2 separate regions of the Homo sapiens genome follow, and region 1 is linked to region 2. The links come from fine-mapping of genetic effects on gene expression. A gene starts in region 2. The other region holds a variant in brackets. All regions are shown on one strand. Distances are between the middles of the regions.

Region 1 (9,341 bases), 28 kb after region 2:
TGGCAGGAACCGATAGAACATCCAAGGTGAACATCGGCCACCCTTTCCATTAGCAAGGGCCTGCACCGGGTATTTGGCCAGAGTTCCTCTGAATTCACTTGGTCTCTGGCAGTTGACCTTGGGTTGAAAATGCAGTTTTTTGAGTGGGCTTTAGAGATCATGCTGAGGAAGAAAGAAAATAGCGTGCACGGATGTGTTGCTGTGGTTGGATTTCACTGGCTGTTTTTCATATACCTGTCTTTTCCCTGTGAGAGAAAACAGCCATGACAGTAAGCAGGGGAAGCTCATTTGAGAGTAGGGGACGTGGAGGGATGAGGGCAGTTCTCCGGGGCACCCCTGAAAATGAATTTCCTCCTCCAGAGCCAGGGTGACCGGGTCCCTCACAGGGCCACCGTCTGCAGGCATCAACACTCTTTTGGGTCTAAATCCAATTATTCCTCAAGTTCTTCTTGGTGGCTTCCTTCACTCTCTGGCCAGGGGGAGTTTTGCAGAAATACTGTTCTAACAGCAGAGCATGTCTGTGACCAAACCTTGGGCAAATACATATTTAAAGAAATCTTATTATTAAAATAGTCAACCTTATGGTTTATGTAGACAATCTGATAAACACAGACAAGGGTAAAGACAGTACAAATTGCTCCATAATCTCACAAGCTGGAAATTACCAACACCATTTAGTACTTTTGTGTATTTCCTCACAGCCTTTTTCATTGCATATATGTAAATACACTGTATTTTAAACATGGTTACAAGCACATTGAACTTTATATCATTTTTCTTTTTCATTTGACATAACATTATGGCAAACAAAAACTTTAAAAAAGCACATGGGCTTTACAAGTGAGCATATGCTTTGCAAACATTTCTGTCAGCTACCAGTAACCAACTGCAAAAACTCATATTCTACCCAAAACAGAAATTGTGCCAGTCGGGGAGTCCTTTGATCACCATGCAGTAAACCTCGCCAAAATATTGTAAATTTAAACAAACTAAAACCCAACCACTTGAAAAAATTTAAAGCACTTAAATTGCTATTGGTTCAAGGAAGAAATAAAGAATGTACTGACAAATATTTAGAAAGCATTGAAAACTAGAATGCCACATACCCAAACCTATGGGAGACAGCTGGCACTATTCTCATAGCCTTAAATGCTTTTATTATTAAAAAGGGAGAGAGAAAAGGCAAATAAACTAAGCATTCAGCCTGAGTGCTTAGGAAAAAAAAAGAATAAAAACAGCCCCTAAGGAAAATGAGAGGGGAAAAAAATAGTAAAGATAAAGGCAGAAATCAATGAATTAAGAAACGGAAACACAGTGAAATCAGCAAACGTATCCAAGAGCTGATTCTGTTTTTAAACAAACAGTAAAGTAGCCTAACCCCTGGCAATTCTATTTGAGAAATAAAAGGGAGAAATGAGAAAAAAAACAAAACAACAACAACAACAACAAAAAAAAAAAAGGGAATGAGAAAGGGGACATTGCAATAGATACAGAGGAGATTTTAAAATAATAGAAACGTATGCACAATCATAGGCATAATTTCAAAATCTCAATTAAATGCATGCTTTTCTGAAAATATATATGTTGCTAATTGAGAAAAAATTTTCAATCCTTATCGAAGCATTGCCCCTCTACCCACCAAAGACACTGGTCCCAAGTGTTTTTGCTAGTTAATTATTTTGAATTTGATAATACTGATAATGCTAAGCTGTTCCACAGCTTAGCAAAAGATGGAGAGCTCTCCAGTTCATTCTACAAAGCAAAATAAGCCTGATATTAAACATGGCAAAGAGACTATTTTGAAGCATGAAAATGCTGGGTAGGAAATAGAATTCAATAATATATTAAACAAGTCATCCACCATAACCCAGTGGGGCAGGAGGAAAGAATAGTCAATATTAGGAAAGCTTAATATAGTAACTACGTCATGCTAATGCATTAAAAAAGTAAAACCGTATTGTTTCCAATATGTGCTGGGGAAAAATGATTAAATTGAACAACCATGTCTACCTAACCAATACAGCAAAAAAAAGGAACAGAAGGGTGCATTCTTAGCATAATAAAAAATATTTCAAACCAATAACCAATTCTGTAATTAACTTAAACACTAGAGGCATTCTTGTGGAAACCAGTAACAAAATAAGGAGGTCTGCCATCACCATCACTATTTAACATTGCTTTTAACACTCTAGTCAACATGATAATACTGAAACAGAAACATATAAATATTATAAAGAAAGAGTAAAAGTATTAAATAACAGTAAGTACAATTTACCCTCTGCCAAATCTTAGGCTAGAGGTTTATTTCCAAAGTTTAGAACCAATAGCAAAAGTCATCAAAAAATTCAACAGATTTGACTACCTTAAAAAATTGTAACTTCTTTTTCTTCTTCTGTTTTTTTTTTGGAGACAGAGTCTTGCTCTGTCGCCCAGGCTGGAGTGCAATGGCGAGATCTCAGCTCACTGCAATGTCCAACTCCTGGGTTCAAGCGATTCTCCTGCCTCAGCCTCCCAAGTAGCTGGGATCACAGGCGTGTGCCACCAACCCGGCTAATTCTTGTATTTTTAGTAGAGACGGGGTTTCACCATGTTGGTCAGGCTTGTCTCAATCTCCTGACCTTAAATGATCCACCTGCCTCGGCCTCCCAAAGTGCTAGGATTATAGACGTGAGCCATATGCCCAGCCATTGATATTTTAATTCTACCAAGATCCTATATATAGATTAGTTTTTAAAAATCAAGATTTAAATTTGAAGGCCTTGCTCATGCCTGTAATACTAGCACTTTGGGAGGCCAAGGCAGGCTGATCATTTGAGGCCAGGAGTTCAAAACCAGCCTGGCCAACATGGCAAAACCCTGTCTCTACTAAAAATACAAAAATTAGCTGGATGTGGTGGTGTGTGCCTATAGTCCCAGCTGCTCGGAAGGCTGAGGCATGAGAATCACTTGAACCTGGGAGGTTGCAGTTAGCCGAGATTGTGCCACTGTACTCTAGCCTTGGTGATGGAGTGAGACACTGTCTCGAAAAAAAAAAAAAAAGATTTAAATTTGAAGACAATATGCACAGACGATATAATTAGCAAACAAATGCCCGACCTAAAGAAAATGCCAAATGGTGAGCTCCATGAGGCTAGGAACCAGGTCAGTTCTGCGTAACAGATACTAAATTGAGTTAATATTTGTTGACTCTATTGAATTAATATTTGTTGAAGAAATTAATGAATGCAATACAAGTTTTGAAAGTATACCATTTTTAACTTTTTAAATTAGAAGAGTTTTTAAAAGATTTTATTATGAAAGAATTTCAACTATTGAGAAAAATTGAAAGTATATAACAGTAAATACCCATACACCAATGGCTGAGATATAATAGATGTTAACATTTGCCATATTTGCTTCATCTGCACAGGTATATATATTTTTTCCTGAACCATTTTGAAGAAAGTTACAGAGCACACATCATTTCTCCCTTCAATAGTTCCGCATACAAATCCTCTGTCACCCAGAACTTAGCAATCTGAATGCAGGGTATGGGAAGCTGCTGCACTGTGCTCCAAGGGTGTCTCTGCAGATTGTCCCAGTCTCTGAGAAGGTATTTAGGAGTCACCAACATGACCTGCTGATATGTAAGAGAAAAGAAAACATGCATTTATTGTGGATCATGCCCTGTGCTGGGAGTTTACCAATGGCCTCCTGTTTAAATCCTTTTTACAATTCTGCCCATATTACAGGAAGTTGAGGTTCAGAGAGGTTAAGTAACTTGCCCCAGTTGACACAGTGTCATTATTCACCAAGTCCCTTCTGACACCATCAAATTACCTGACATTTGCCTCTTCCCTTTATCTTCTCTGTGCGTGAATGCATGGAGGTGATTTGTTGGGCAGTGTGGACAGACGGGAAGCAATCTCAATGTCCTCCAGTGCAAGAATTGGCAGGCAAATGGGGATGTGTGTGAACGGTGTGACTATGAACATGGGTGATCGATTACGGACATGCAAGATGGAAAATTGCTTGTGGCATCCAGATAAGGGAAAACAAGTAGGACACCAGATTGTATACACTGTGATCAAAACCATGTGAAAAACACATGCATGAAGAGGACTGGGAAGAAATACACAAGAAGTGGTTGCATTAGGGTGAGAAGGAGTATTCATGTTTTTCTCATCCGTCTTTTTCAAACCTTTTGTAATGGGTGGTTTTATTAATTTTATAATGGAAAATGTTAATTTAAAAGCAAGTTATTTACAGTTTAGTAAGCTCATGGCAGGGAAAGGCTGTGCTCTGTTTATTGCTCTTACTTTTTCCCAACGCCTACTCCCATGCCTGGCAATTATAGAGATAATAAATGTGGGTGTGGAATGAGTGCCCACTGGGAAACCTCTCAGAGGACTTTGACCCAGGAACATATTTGCACAGGGTTTCCCTCAGCTGGAGAAGGTTTCTCTGGGAGAGCACCAGCCAGGTGTGTGTCATGGGATATATTTACAGGGTGGTGAGCTCTCCTGGTCCAACCTAAAAGGTCCCAGCAAGGTGTAGGGGCCCTTCTGGCCATTTGACATCACCAGGGCAGTTAGTGCTGATACAAACCACAGAGAATGAACAAACTCCAACTCAAACGGGAATGGATTTTATGTCATTCTGGGACTTTCAAACTTGATAATAGACCAAGCATGGTGGCTCACACATGTAATCCTAGCACTTTGGGAAGCCAAGGTGGGAGGATCGCTTGCGGCCAGGAGATTGAGACCAGCCTGGGAAAGGTAGCAAGACCCAGTCTCTACAAAAAAATTTTTTGTTCTGTTTTGTTTTTGAGACAGAGTCTCAACTCTGTCGTCTAGGCTGGAGTGCAGTGGTTTGATCTTGGCTCACTACAACCTCCACCTCCGGGTTCCAGTGATTCTCCTGCCTCAGCCTCCCGAGTAGCTGGGATTACAGGCACATGCCACCATGCCCGGCTAATTTTTCTATTTTTAGTAGAGATGGGGTTTCACCATGTTGGCCAGGCTGGTCTCAAACTCCTGACCTTAGGTGATCCGCCCACCTCGGCCTCCCAAAGTGCTGGGATTACAGGCGTGACCCACCGTGCCTGGCCAAAAAACTTTTTAGTAATTAAAAAGATCAAGCTTGATAATCACAATCATATGAGCAGTTATTAAGTGCCAGCCTAAGTGCATTTACAGACATTCCTTATTTAATTTTCACAACAGCCATTAGCATTAGCTATCGGCCGGGCACAGTGGCTCACACCTGTAATCCCAACACTTTGGGAGGCTGAGGCGGATGGATCGCCTGAGGTCAGGAGTTCGAGACCAGCCTGGCCAACATGGTGAAACCCCGTCTCTACTAAAAATACAAAATTAGCCGGATGTGGTGGTGCATGCCTGTGATCCCAGCTATTTGGGAGGCTGAGGCAGGAAAATCACTGGAACCTGGGAGGCAGAGGTTGCAGTGAGCCAATATCACGCCATTGCATTCCGGCCTGGGCAACAAGAGCAAAACTCCATCTCAAAAAAAAAAAAAAAAAAAAAAAAGAAAGAATTAGCTATCAGCTCCATTTTATAGATGAGGAAACTGAGGCACAGAGGAAGGAGGGATGGGTTTCAAGGCCGGTCTTGGTTTTGCCAAGAACTTGACTTTCAGCAAATCGTAAGCCTTCTGGGCTTTCATTTCCTTGTCTCTGAACGAAACAGCTGGCAGGAGTTGAATGCTTATCATGTGCCAGGCCCTGGCCGAACACTCTGAACATGTGCGCACAGAGTGTGTGTTAACCAGTGGGGGAGGGGGCACCAAGCAGGCCCATCTGGGTGGGAATATGAAGCCACCTTCCCAACAGGGCAGTCACATATGCCCAGTAGGAAAGAGCTGTATCTGTGCTGCAGAGAGGGTCATTTCAAATTAAAAAAAAAAAAATTGGCTGGGCGCGGTGGCTCACGCCTGTAATCCCAGC[T/A]CTTTGGGAGGCCGAGGCAGGCAGATCATGAGGTCAGGAGATCAAGACCATCCTGGCTAACACGGTGAAACCCCGTCTCTACTTAAAAAAATACAAAAAATTAGCCGGGCATGGTGGCGCGCGCCTGTAGTCCCAGCTACTTGGGAGGCTGAGGCAGGAGAATGGCGTGAACCCGGGAGGCGGAGCTTGCAGTGAGCCGAGATCCCGCCACTGCACTCCAGCCTGGGCGACAGAGCGAGACTCCGTCTCAAAAAAAAAGAAAAAAAAAAAAATGCTTAATGGATTGTTTGGTAACAAATGGATACCAACAAATACAAAATGGCCATTTCTTTTTCTTTCTTTAAAGAAACATTTGAATTGGAGGCTTAGGCTCATCTCAAGAGGTTGTGGACCCGACAGTTGGTGGTGATGGGTTTTGTTCATAAATGAGAATAATAGTTGTGAGTTTAATCCAACACATTGATTGAAGTGAATGAAAAAGAACACATAAGCTGTGTGAATATAGTGACTAATCATAGACTCTCGGGATTGAAATGTACCCTGGGGGGATCCAGGATGCAGCATCACCCGGGAGCTTATTATTAATGGAAACGAAGTATCTCTCACAGCACCCTAGACCTGCTGAAGCAGAATCTGCATTTTAGCAAGATCCCCGGGTGATTCCTCAGCACATTTGAGAAGCAGCGCTCTCATTTGTCCTGTCTCCTTTGAGGAAATCGGAAGACTAGAGAGGTTAAGTGAGGACACACAGGAAGTTCTAAAAAACTGTAACTCTGGTCTCTCAACACCAGGTCTTTGCACAGCACTTGCCCCATGGGAGAAACCCGGTTGGTTTTGTTTTTGCTTGTTTTGCATTCCCAAGACCAATTCTTGTGAGCCACTGGTCATAGCCCATCTCTCTTGTTTTCATGCAGCAGGGGCATCTTCAGTGGCCACGTCATCTCTCACTCTCTGCTGGGGAGCTTGTTAAAATGCAGTTGCCTGGGTCCAGCCCCAAATCCACTGGATCTGGGTGGGTGGGAACCAAGTGCCTGCACCTTAAAATACCCTCAGGTATTCCTAGGTGCCAGTGTTGTTACGGCCAGCTTGGGCCAGCTATGAACTGTTACAGTGGCTTTTTATTCTGAAATTAAACCTGCAGATACTTGGGCTAGTATCGACTAAAGCCCATTTTCATCTGAAGGAAGCCATCCAGCTACTAACATTATATTGTGTACTGAGTATTGACTGTGAATTTCTGTTTTTTTGAGACGGAGTCTCGCTGTCGCCCAGGCTGGAGTGCAGTGGCGCGATCTCAGCTCACTGCAACCTCTGGCTCCCAGGTTCAAGCAATTCTCTTGCCCTCAGCCTCCCAAGTAGCTGGGATTAGAGGCGCCTGCCACCACGCCTAGCTAATTTTTGTATTTTTAGTAGAGACAGAGTTTTGCCATATTGGCCAGGCTGGTCTCGAGCTCCCAACCTCAGGTGATCCTCCCGCCTCGGTCTCCCAAAGTGCTGGGATTATAGGCGTGAGCCACTGTGTCCAGCCACTGTGAATTTCTCATTAACAGAACGTTCTCTTTCAACCTCAGCTCCATGGAACTCAGCAGATCACATGTGGTTGAATGTAAATTCCAGGACATTTAAATGTATTATTTTCTATTTTTAAGAGAGAGGAGAGGCAGATTGGATGAACTTGGAAAATTAAATGGCCCCCAAAAAGTAACAATTAAGAATGTGTGTTTGGGGCTGGGCACGGTGGCTCATGCCTGCAATCACAGCACTTTGGGAGGCCTAGGCAGGAGGATCACTTGAGGTCAGGAGTTCGAGACCAGCCTGGCCAACATGGCAAAACCCCATCTCCACTAAAAATACAAAAATTAGCTGGACATGGTGGTGGGCACCTGTAATCCCAGGTACTTGGGAGGCTGAGGCAGGAGAATTGCTTGAACCCAGGAGGCAGAGGTTGCAGTGAGCTGAGATTGTGCTACTGCACTCCAGCCTGGGCAAGAGTGAGATTCCATCTCAAAAAAAAAAAAAAAAAAAGAATGTGTGTTTGGCCTGTATAGTCTTAGCTACTCAGGAGGCTAAAGCAAGAGGATTCCTTGAGTCCAGGAGTTCAAGGCCAGCATGGACAACATAGCAAGAACTTGTTTCTAAAAAAAGAAAAAAAAAGTGTGTGTTTGAAATTTGAGGCTCTGTGGCTAGAATTTTCACTTAAGAGGAAATATATATCTGCATTTAAAATTCTTTAATTTATAAACATTCTTGTGTATTCTTAGGCCAGTGCCCCACAAAAGTATGGGCCATGCACCAGTGCTGTTCTGCACAATGTTAACCAAGCAAGAGGAGGAGCTAAACATAGAAAATGGGATTGGTGTTTAGAAACTTCTGTAGTTTGACATTGGCAGGATGACATCCAAATGGGCGATTGGTGGCTTCATCTCGAACAGCGTGTGGGCCAGGGTGAGCACTGTTGACCCCACGTGGCAGGACTCAGGACTAAACTGCTTGTTGATGTTAGATCTGAGAGGGATTAAGGATTAAGATGAATCAAACTGACCTTTCACCACAGAGTTTGAGAAGCACTGGGGATGTTAAAGGTGGGGAAAGTTTGCAGCGGGAGGTGTGCTTTTTAAGCTTAGGAAGTGGAAAGCAGGAGAAGAGTTGGACAGGCAGAAGTCTTCTCGCTCCCACTTCACCCTCGAGATCCCAACAGGCCAGTTCAGGCAGAAAGGGGTTGGCTCCTAGGCTAGCCGGCTACTCCACGTTGAGCCTTCTGCCTTGTCCCATATGTTCCTTTTTCCTGTTTTTTTAGAGACAGGTTCTCACTCTGTTGCCCAGGCTGGAGTGCAGTGTCTGTTCACAGGCATGATCATAGCTCACTGCAGCCTTGACCTCCTGGGCCTGAGCGATCCTCCCAACTCAGCCTCCCAAGTAGCTGGGACCATAGGCATTCGCTACCATGCCCAGCTTGTCCCATAGACTTGGTTTGACTCTGGTCACAGAGCCTGGGGAGAAACTCCTTGATTCAAGGCAGAGCAAGGTGGTTTAAGAGATGGCCTTCTGAGTCCTGCCTGGCCTGGGTATGGAAACGTGGGCGCTACCAGCTGTGCAAGCTTGGCCCACTGACTTTCTTTCTTTGCCCCTCAGAGTTTAGAAAATGGGAATGGCTGGATGCGGTGGCTCATGCCTGTAATCCCAGCACTTCTGAAGGCCGAGGCAGGCAGATCACTTGAGGTCAGGAGTTCAAGACCAGCTTGGCTAACATGGTGAAACCCTGTCTTTACTAAAAGTACAAAAATTAGCTGGGCGTGGTAGCAGCTGTAGTCCCAGCTACTCGGGAGGCTGAGGTGGGAGAATCGCTTGAACCCAGGAGGCAGAGGTTGCAGTGAGCCGAGATCGCATCATTGTA
Region 2 (9,341 bases):
CATCATATATTATCGGCTTCCACTTCTCCCAACAACCCTAGAAGGTGGGCATTATTTAAGTTAAAAAGGTGTCACAAAAGGAAGTGGGTCACCTGTCCAGACAGGTTCTCACAGGGAGGTAATCTGTAAGAGAGGAAATTGGTATGGAAAGTGGAGGAGACTCTAAAGAGGGGAAAACATGTTGAAAGAGAATTCCCAAAGGGAAACCCTGTCTACACATTCTGGCTCAGACACTCCATGGTAGTGACCTTAGGAAGTTTTTAAGCTTTTCGGTGCCTCAGCCTCCTCCTCTGTAAAATGATAATGACACCTACCTCAAATAAAGTGCTTAGCCCAGCCTCGCACTAAGGTGGCTGTACAGGTATGTTTATCAAAGCAGGTTCATAAAAGCGAAAAACCTGCAAACATCCCATGAGTCTAACAATTTGTTTAAACAAATTAAGATACACACATACCATGGAATAATATCATTCACTAAGAATGACAATGTGGGCTGGGTGAGGTGGCTTATGCCAGTAATCCCCACACTTTGAGAGGCTGAGGCAGGAGGATTGCTTGAACCTAGGAGTTCGAGACCAGCCTGGGCAACATAGCAAGACCCAGTCTGTACCAAAAAACAAAAAGAAAAAATACAGCCGAGCATGGTGGCACACAAATGTAACCCTAGTTACTCGGGAGGTTGAGGTGGGAGGATGGCTTGAGCCCAGAAGTTCGAGGCTGCAGTGAGCTATGATCATGCCACTGTAATCCAACCTGGCTGACAGAGCAAGACCCTGTATCCAAAGAAGAATGTGGATGTTTACAGACCAGAAGATAATTTGTGACATATACCGGGTGAAAGTAGCTGCAATTCAGTAGGTGTAGTGTTATGCCATTTTTGTTAATTTTGTAAAAATAACATGCTTATACATAGAGTCATCATTTGCTTAATGATATTGACTTTGTACAGTTTTATTATGGTGTGCACTTACATGTAGCCACTAGGATATAAAATGTCCAAGGATATACACCGAAATATGTCTCTAGATAGGGTTCGTTTTCGAATTCTTTCACAATGAACTTGTGTTGTAAAGAAATAACAGAGGGCTGGGCGCAGTGGCTCATGCCTGTAATCCTAGCACTTTGGGAGGCCGAGGCAGGCAGATCCCCTGAGGTCAGGAGTTTGAGACCAGCCTGGTCAACAGGGCAAAACCCTGTCTCTACTAAAAATAAAAAAAAAATTAGCTGGGTGTGGTGGCACATACCTGTAATCCCAGCTACTCGAGAGGCTGAGGCAAGAGAATCGCTTGAACCCAGGAGGCGGAGGTTGCAGTGAGCCAAGATCGTGCCACTGCACTCCAGCATGGGTGACAGAGCGAGACTCCCACTCACGAAAGAAATAATAGAAGTGTAAAATGTTTACAAAGCAGGAACTGGAGCTGTGGTATCTGCCTGGATCCTTGAGGGCATTTGGCTGGTGCCAAGTTCATGTGCAGGTCACTTGGAGAACCAATAATCCAACCAAAGGACTAAGAGGTTTTGGGAGCTTTAAATCACGTTGTGGAGAAGTCAATAATCACCCCCTATCCCTCCCCTGCTCCTCCAGTGCAAACTTCTGTGATTACGTCTCTCTCCTGAGCAAACATAGCCAGGTGCCTGCTCCCAGGGGCCTTCCTGGATTTCATGAGGCCCATCCTCTCCTGATTCCTATTTGTTCCTCAGGCAGGCTACAACTCTGCTGATCAGGCTGGGCCTTGATAACCAGTCATCAAGCTCTGGTCATGTTCCTGAGAAGCCACCTGGCCATCTTGATCGGATGTGGTGTTCACCAATCCCAGCCTCCCAGTGGGACACTGGTCATCTTTGAAGGAATGCTTCCCCCTCAGTCAGCTCATCATGTTTCTGGTGTGGTGAGTCACTCTGGTTTCAACCCTGAACGTAATCTTATTTCCAGGTCATCGGGGCACTACCCAGTCACTCCCTGATTTGTAGTAATAGTAAATAAAAGCTACCGGGGATTGGTGCTTATGTACCGGACACCATGCTAGGTGTGGGGTTTGAGCCTCACAACAAACTGTGAAGCAGGTATTTTTATCCCTATTTTACAGAAAAGTTAGAGAGGTTGACTTGCCCAGGAATATGCAGCAGGTAAGCCTGGGCCCTTAAACTAAGACACTGTCTCTGCAATCCACAGGTCTTCTTACCTGCATTTTATATGTCCCGAAATTAAGTCGAAGTTATTCACTGAAGTTATGTTATTCATTTACATTCATGAAGTTAGCAAGTGGGAGGGGCTAAAATCTGAATATTTCCCTGACACCCTCCCCTTTTTCCCACTTGTGCTCTATCCTCACTCTCCCCCCACCCACTTGTATTCTAAGCTGCAGTAAACACTTCAACTCTTGACAGTTCTAAGAACCTGTAATAATGTGCCGTCTTGCCCTGGGGCCTTTGGACAGACTGTTCTCTCCCATGCATTTGGCTAGCACAGCCTAATCTAGACACGACCTCCTCCAGGAAGCCACACCTGACCACCTTAGTCCAAGCACCCTCTTAGGAGCTTTCTTGGTTCACTCTTGCCTGTATCGCATGGCACTGAGGTTGCTGTCTTCTTTTCTTGCTCCTTCGCCTGCAAAGCCAAAGGCCAAAGCAAGGACTGCGTCTTGCTGATGATTCGGTCCTCAGCAGCCAGCACCTTCGCCGGCACGGGGTAGGTACTCAGTAGGCATTTGTTAAGTGCATGCTTGGCTCTAAGAGCTGCATTCTGCTTTTTTGGAGGATGCAGCTTGGGTGTACTAAGTGGGAGGCTGCAAGTGATGACGGAAATGTGGTTTCCTGCAGACCTGGGCAAAGGCCCTGGGGTCATTGGGGGCTCAGGGTGCTGATGTTAAAAGACCATGGTGTCCTTCTTGTTGAACCAAACTCTCAGGCTACTGTTTCCTCACTCCTCGTCAGAGACAAATGTGTTCTGAGTGACTGGAGTCATAGCTCAGAGCACCAGGAGCTGGTTTAGGGTGGGGCGAGGGGCCGTGGCCTTGGGGCTCTCGTTTCTAAAGGCCCAGGGCTCAGGGCTGGGGGGAGGGGTGAGGAGTGGCAGGTCGTGTCCCCGGGAGGCTGCAGTCACTGGGGGAGAGACAATGGGGCTCAGCATCTGCTCCTCCCTGGGAGAAGGGACCCTTCAGTGAAAAGCCAGGGAGAGCAGGGAAGTGTGGGAGGAATTGATGAGGAGAAGGGGTGGAGCCAAGGAGATGCAGCCGGGAGGAAGGAAGGGAAGGGAAGGAAGGGAAGAGGGAGGGGAGAGGATCCAGGCTTTCCTTCCTCCCGGTGACCTGGTCCTGAGCCGCAGCTTCCCTTGCATTGTTCCCTGAGTTTGCTCTCGGGGCCCACCGAGACCTCACGTTTCTCCCCCTGGCTGCAGCCCCAGTCCGAGGGCCCGGCATCCAGCAGGTGCTCAATACTTACTTGGGAAAATGACAAATGTGACCAACTTTGCTTTGGGAACTTTCCCCCGTCTTCTCCCCACTCCTCCGGAGAACCCGAGGACAGAGCAGGTCTTGGGAGCACGCCCGGGCGCCCCATGAATAATTGACCCTTCCTGGCGGCACTGCCCGGCTCTGTCCGAGGGCTCCGGACCCGCCCTGCGTTGCAGTCGAGAAACGGCTCGGAGTGGCGGGTGTTCTGGAGGTTGGAGGCCTGGTGTCCGGCCTGCGCCGGAGCTGGAGGGCGGCGAGGCTGTGCCAAACCCCGCGGCCCCTCAGGGAGCCGAGAGGGACCTGACGGCCGCGCTGCCAGCGACCACGCCTCGGCGCCCCCCAGCAGTGCGCCCCGGGGCCGAGGCCCAGGCCCTGGGCTCGGGGACCCCGCCAGCCCGCCGATCCCAGCAGCTGCCCTGAGCCCCTTCTCCACCCGGGCCCTGGCGCTCGGAGCCCGCGCCGCTCCCTCGAGTCAGGCCGTCCAGGGCTCTGCTAACAGCTGTTTAAAGGCTTTTGCTGTTCAGTGCTCTGCGGGGATGTTTGTTCCAGGCCCATCTGCCTACTTTAAAAATACATAAGTGAAGCACACACACCCAGCTTGCCACCTCTGGCTGGGGAGGGGCGGGCTCGGCGGCCCTCGCTCGCACTTGGGAAGGAACCGGCACCCAGGAGCCGCACCCGTGCCCCAACACCCGCACCGGCTCTCCTCTCCAGAGGACGCCCCTGGCTTCCCTTGGGGGGGGCGGGGCGCAGGGCCCCCGGGCCCCCTTTGTACCGGACAGGGCCGGGCCCCCCATTTCCAAGCGAGGTCTGCCTCTTCCCCGCTTCAGTTAATCTTTGTTCCCCTTTTCTGCTGAGAGGAGAAAAAAAAAAGAGAGAGAGAGAAAGAAAGAAAAGAAGGAAAAAAGGCGTGACTTGATTTTCAAACGAAACTCCCACAGCAAACAAAACCCTTTTAGAGAAATAAGAAAGGAGGAAGAAGGAAGAAAAGAGGGAAGAAAAAAACAGGAGAAAGAAAACCCTTCAGGCTTTCAATTCGAGTGGGAGAGTTGAACCGAAAGAAAGAGAAAGAAAGGAAGAAAAATCCTCTGCGGTAGAAAGAGAAAAGAAAACTTGGGCTGACAAGAGGGAGGTGTTGGGGGTGGAAGGAAGTGAGAAAACAAAAGAGAGATAAAAGGGCTGCTTTTCTGTCTCTCTCTTCCTCTGCGAGCTGGCTTAGGAGGAGCTGTTTTGCATCCCTTCACGTCAGCCCTGCCTCATTCCCTTCTTCCAGGGAGGGAGAGAGCGCGAGCGAGAGAGCGAGCGAGAGGAGGGGGGAGAGAGAGAAAGAGAGGAGCCGGAGGGAGGGCGGCAGGAGCAGGCGGCGGGCGCGCGTGGAGGCGGGCGGCGGGCGCACAGCAGCAGCCCGGGCGGTGGGCAGCCAGGAGCCCCCGGCCCGGCCCGGCCCGGCCCGCCGAGGGCCCCAGCGCAGGAGCCGCGCCCGGACCCAGGGTGAGTGTCCCGCGCGGCCCCCCGCCCCAGCCCCAGCCCCAGCCCCGCAGCCCCGCGCTGCCGGCCGGCGGGGGCGCGGGGGGCGCGGGGGTGGGTCGCTGCGGCCGCGGCCGACCCGCCCCCCGCCTCTCCCTGGGGACGGCCGCGCGCAGGCCCGCGCCGCGCTGCAAACATGTCGTCTTTTCCTTTCACTTCCACATTCCCTCATGCCGGAGAGCTGGAGGGAGAGAGGGAGAGCCGGGGAAAGAGGGAGAGATGGCGTCTGGGGTGGGGGGGAGGGAGAGGAGGGGGAGGGGGAAGGGAGAGGGAGGGAGCGAGCGAAAGAGGGCGAGAGGGAGGAGAGCGCGCGAATGAGAGAGAGAGAGAGAGAGAGAGAGAGAGAGGCAAAAATGAAAGGAAAGCGTCGCGGCGGCGGCGGCGGCGGCGCGGGAGGCCCGGGAGGCGACGGTGGCGGAGGCTCTCGGGCCCGCACGTGGGTGTCCCGGTGCTGGGTGCGCTCCCCCCACACCCGGCCCGGGACTCAAAGTTTCACCCCCTCGCCGCCCCGCCCCTACGGCTGCCCACAAACTTTATTCTCGGAGCGGGTGGGGTTGTTGCGCGTCCCAGCCGGCCGGGGGTGGGGGAGAGCTGAGCGCGCCGCTGGCGGGGCTGGGGGCGTCCCCGAGGGCCACTGGCCGCCGCACGCTGGGCGCCGCGGGATCTCCGCCGGGACAGCGTCGGGGCGCCGCGGGCCGGGGACCCAGGACCGGCGCTCGCTGTCTGGGGGCGTGGGGGTGGGGGTGGCGGGCGGGGTCCCTACGGCCCGTCTTGAGCCTCCCGCGGCTCAGCCCCCCTTCCTCCTCGTCGCCCTCTCTCCGTCTTCTCGCGGTCATTTTCCTAATTGGATGGAGCTGTGGGGCGTGAGCACCAGCGTCAGATCGGGGCCCTCAGGCTACCAGGTGGGCGCGCGGGCTCGGGGACCGACGGGGCAGCCCCAGCCTCCCCACCCTAGGCGCACAGATCCCGCAGATCCGGCCCTTGGGCCACCGCCCCCTTCACCGCGGACTTGCTAACTAGTGCGTATCGGGTTTTTTTCCAACTTGCCTTTTAAGATGACTTTTATGGGCGCTGCAACTGCTTCCCTCCAGTCTAAGCTGTAGTTTGGAAAGATTTAAGAGGCCAGGGAGGTGCTTGTGTGGATTTTAACCAACCTGAAAGGGTCATTCATGTATCTCTAGGATTTGCGAGACGGTTAGGGCAAGGCGTAGCAGTATCCGGGGTGCCTTTTCTTTTTTCTTGATATGGAGTCTTGCTCTGTCGCCCAGGCTGGAGTGCAGTGGCGCGATCTCGGCTCACTGCAGCCTCCGTCTCCCGGGTTCAAGCGATTCTCCTGCCTCAACCTCCCCAATAGCTGGGACTACAGGCGCACGCCACCACGCCCGTTTAATTTTTAATTATTTTTAGGAGAGACGGGGTTTCACCATATTGGCCAGGCTGGTCTCAAACTCCTGACCTCGTGATCCGCCCGCCCCGGCCTCCCAAAGTGCTGGGATCACAAGGACTCTTCGAGGTACTCGTCCTACTGGGTCTGAGGGAGGCCTGCCGGGCAATCCAGTGAGGGACCAACGTCATGGCCCACCCTTGAGCTGCAGGCCGAGTGCCCACCTGCAAAGGGCACCCTGAGCACCTTTCTTGCTGTGCAAAATGGAAACTCCCGGCCGGTATCGACCTGCAGTGTACATAACTAGTCCCTGTGGGCATCTGGGAAATTCACAAAACTCCCCCACAGGTGTGCGGAGAAGGACTTTGTGCTCTTGGGGGTCACTCAGCCAGCTTTGAAGCTGCCCTCTCAGTCCTGCATTTGTACACGTGTAAGTAAAACCAGTCAAAGTTCATTTCTGCCAAGTAGAGGGCTGGGGGTCTGTGTCCCTATTGCATCTTCACCAGGGGGCCTAGAGAACCAATGGGGCCACGTGGGAGAAGGGAAGAAGAAAACCGTTCTTAACTCGTTAGATAAGAGACAGTGTATTCCTAATGTGATCAAAGCCGATGGGGCTATCTGGTTTTGACTTCTGAAAACCTAGAGTGGCCATTCCTTTCTCATTTGTTTTAAAGAGAATGTTATTTTCTATACTTTCTCATTGGTTTTATTAGCTGACCCTCAGGCCAGGGTAACTGTGCTGGGTACCTGCCAGTCTCGGAGCAGAACCTCTGATCGGTCATCTGTAGCTCCAGAGAGGTGCCCACCTGGTGCCCCAGTGACCTTCTGGAGCTGGCTTTCCTGCATGAGGGCCGTGGGGATAGAGCTGCTTTCTTTTGGGTAGGGGGAATTGGATGTTTGGGTCACATTTTCTTCCTCCAGCCTGGCCTGGTTGCCTGTGTCTTGGTGGAGGGGGCTGCAGTGAGTTGAAGTGGGACGCGGGCTCACTTGCTTGTCTTCTCAGAGCTGATACCTGGGTGAGTCCTCAGCCCACGGTGTGTGGTCAGCGGGCCATTTTTCCAGGGCTTGGGTCATTTCCATTCCAACCAGGCATTTCCTACCAGGGAGACTTATTTTAGGCTCACTGTCTAGAGACAAGGAGACAGACAAGGTCTGGAATGGTTTTTGAGTTGGAGGAAGGGAGACTAATGGGACCACCAGAGATTTTGCACTTCTATTTTAGGTTTGCCTTGTGGCCCAGAGATATTTCTAGCAGAGTTGTGTTTGGAAAGAAGCACAACTTCTTTCTAGAAGGGAGTAAATAAATAAATAAAGGAGGAGTCCAGCGCATCTTGGAGGAGACAAGTGAAGTCAGCTCCCTGGCCCCACCAGTGCTGATGCTTGGCGCAGGCTCATAATCTGGCTTGCTGACCCCTCCCATACCCTCGTTCCTCAGGCCTAGCCAGGGCCTAGCCCGCGGCAGGACTCATTATGTTGAAATAAGGAATCTGTGAATGTGCTGGGCCTGCTGTTAATGGTGCTTGCTCCCAGCCCTTTGACTTCAAAGCTGGAAGAAGGCCTTAGAGATTGTCTGAAAGCAACTGAGGCAGGAAGAAAGCTCTGTACCCAGGATTACACAGTAAGTGGCAGAGCCAGCACTCAACCTGAGCTTTCAGAGCCTGTTCCCAGTGCTGTTTCTACAAGGCCACTGTCTCTGCTACTGCTGGGGATCCCGAATCAAGCTCACTTCAAAGAATGTAGCTATGAGAGCATGAAACCGTGCGCTCACGCCGCACACGAGTTGGGTAAATGGAGCGCCTCATTTTCCAGATGTGTTACAGAAACTGTGCTGGAGGATGTGACTGGCCAGTGAGACAACTAGGGGGAACTGGGTGATTCAGGCTGTTTCAACACTGACTTCTTCAAAGTCCAACAATCAGAGAAGCAGTTTAGTCATCGGGATTTTCTCACATCACACCATTTTTTGATCTGGAATGCTTTCTTCATACTTTGACTTGTATGTGATTTATTTAGGATTGGTCAGGAGAGAAGAGAAGGAGTGTAAGGACCCAAGACCTGAACTGATTTCCATCTGTGGGTTAAATGTACTAGAACGTTTGTGAGGGTAGACGTCTTTGCTTTGTTCATTGCGGAGCCCCTGTGCCTAGAATAGGGTCTGATCTATAGTGGGCCCTCAGTAGATACTTGCTGAATGAATGTACTGGACATTAGGGAAGATTTGCCTGCCAGAAGGAACCCATGAATGACACAGGCAGGGACAGGGAGGTGATTGATGGGAGCTGCAGAGTTGTGCTGTGAGTCATTGCTTCAAACAAGCTCCAGACAGGTGAGGCAGGAGGGGGCTGGGAAGAGAGGATCCTGAATGGGGTGGAGCCCCTGGGTGGAGACTTGTGCAAAACAATAGGTTTTTTTAGATTTTTTTTTTCTTTTTTTGAGACGGAGTCTCACTCTTTCACCAGGCTGGAGTGCAGTGGCGCGATCTCAGCTCACTGCAACCTTCGCCTCCTGGCTTCAAGCGATTCTCCTGCCTCAGCCTCCTGAGTAGCTGGGACTACAGGCATGCGCCACTACACCCAGCCTAATTTTTATATTTTTAGTAGAGACGGGGTTTCACCAGGTTGGCCAGGATGGTCTCGATCTCTTCACCTCGTGATCTGCCCGCCTCGGCCTCCCAAAGTGCTGGGATTACAGGCGTGAGCCACTGCACCCGGCCTAAAACAATAGGTTTTGAATTGGACTCAGAATATAGGGAGAATAATAATAATCATGTGTCTTAGGCCAGAATTATGCTACGTGCTTTGTGTATTTGTCTCTCTTAGTTCTTGCAGGTGCTGGCTCTTGCATTCTTATCCTCATTTGGCAGAGGAGTTAAATAACTTGTCCAAGGGCACAGAGCTGGTATCTAAACCCAGGCTGTCTAACTTCAAACTTTGCCTCTCAGGAACGATGATGTGGTCATATGTCTCTGCCCATGCCAA

Evidence for each region. PIP is the estimated chance that this variant, and not a neighbour inherited with it, causes the effect.
Region 1: its variant is the best candidate, but not a certain one, in a credible set for the expression of ZNF710 in whole blood (TOPMed, PIP 0.64).

What each region holds. Positions count from the first base shown.
Region 1 is chr15:90,024,823-90,034,163 of GRCh38, forward strand. The region is part of intron 1 of ZNF710 (zinc finger protein 710); the gene reads left to right. Among named protein-coding and RNA genes, the nearest start is that of MIR3174, 23 kb to the left of the region's middle. The variant T/A (reference allele first, on the strand shown) is at 5,948.
Region 2 is chr15:89,996,672-90,006,012 of GRCh38, forward strand. It overlaps ZNF710 (zinc finger protein 710), which reads left to right and starts at 4,653. Exons shown (of 5, transcript NM_198526.4): 1 at 4,653-4,943. RefSeq lists silencers at 4,105-4,274, 4,683-4,851, 5,267-5,766 and enhancers at 5,466-6,234, 6,235-7,002.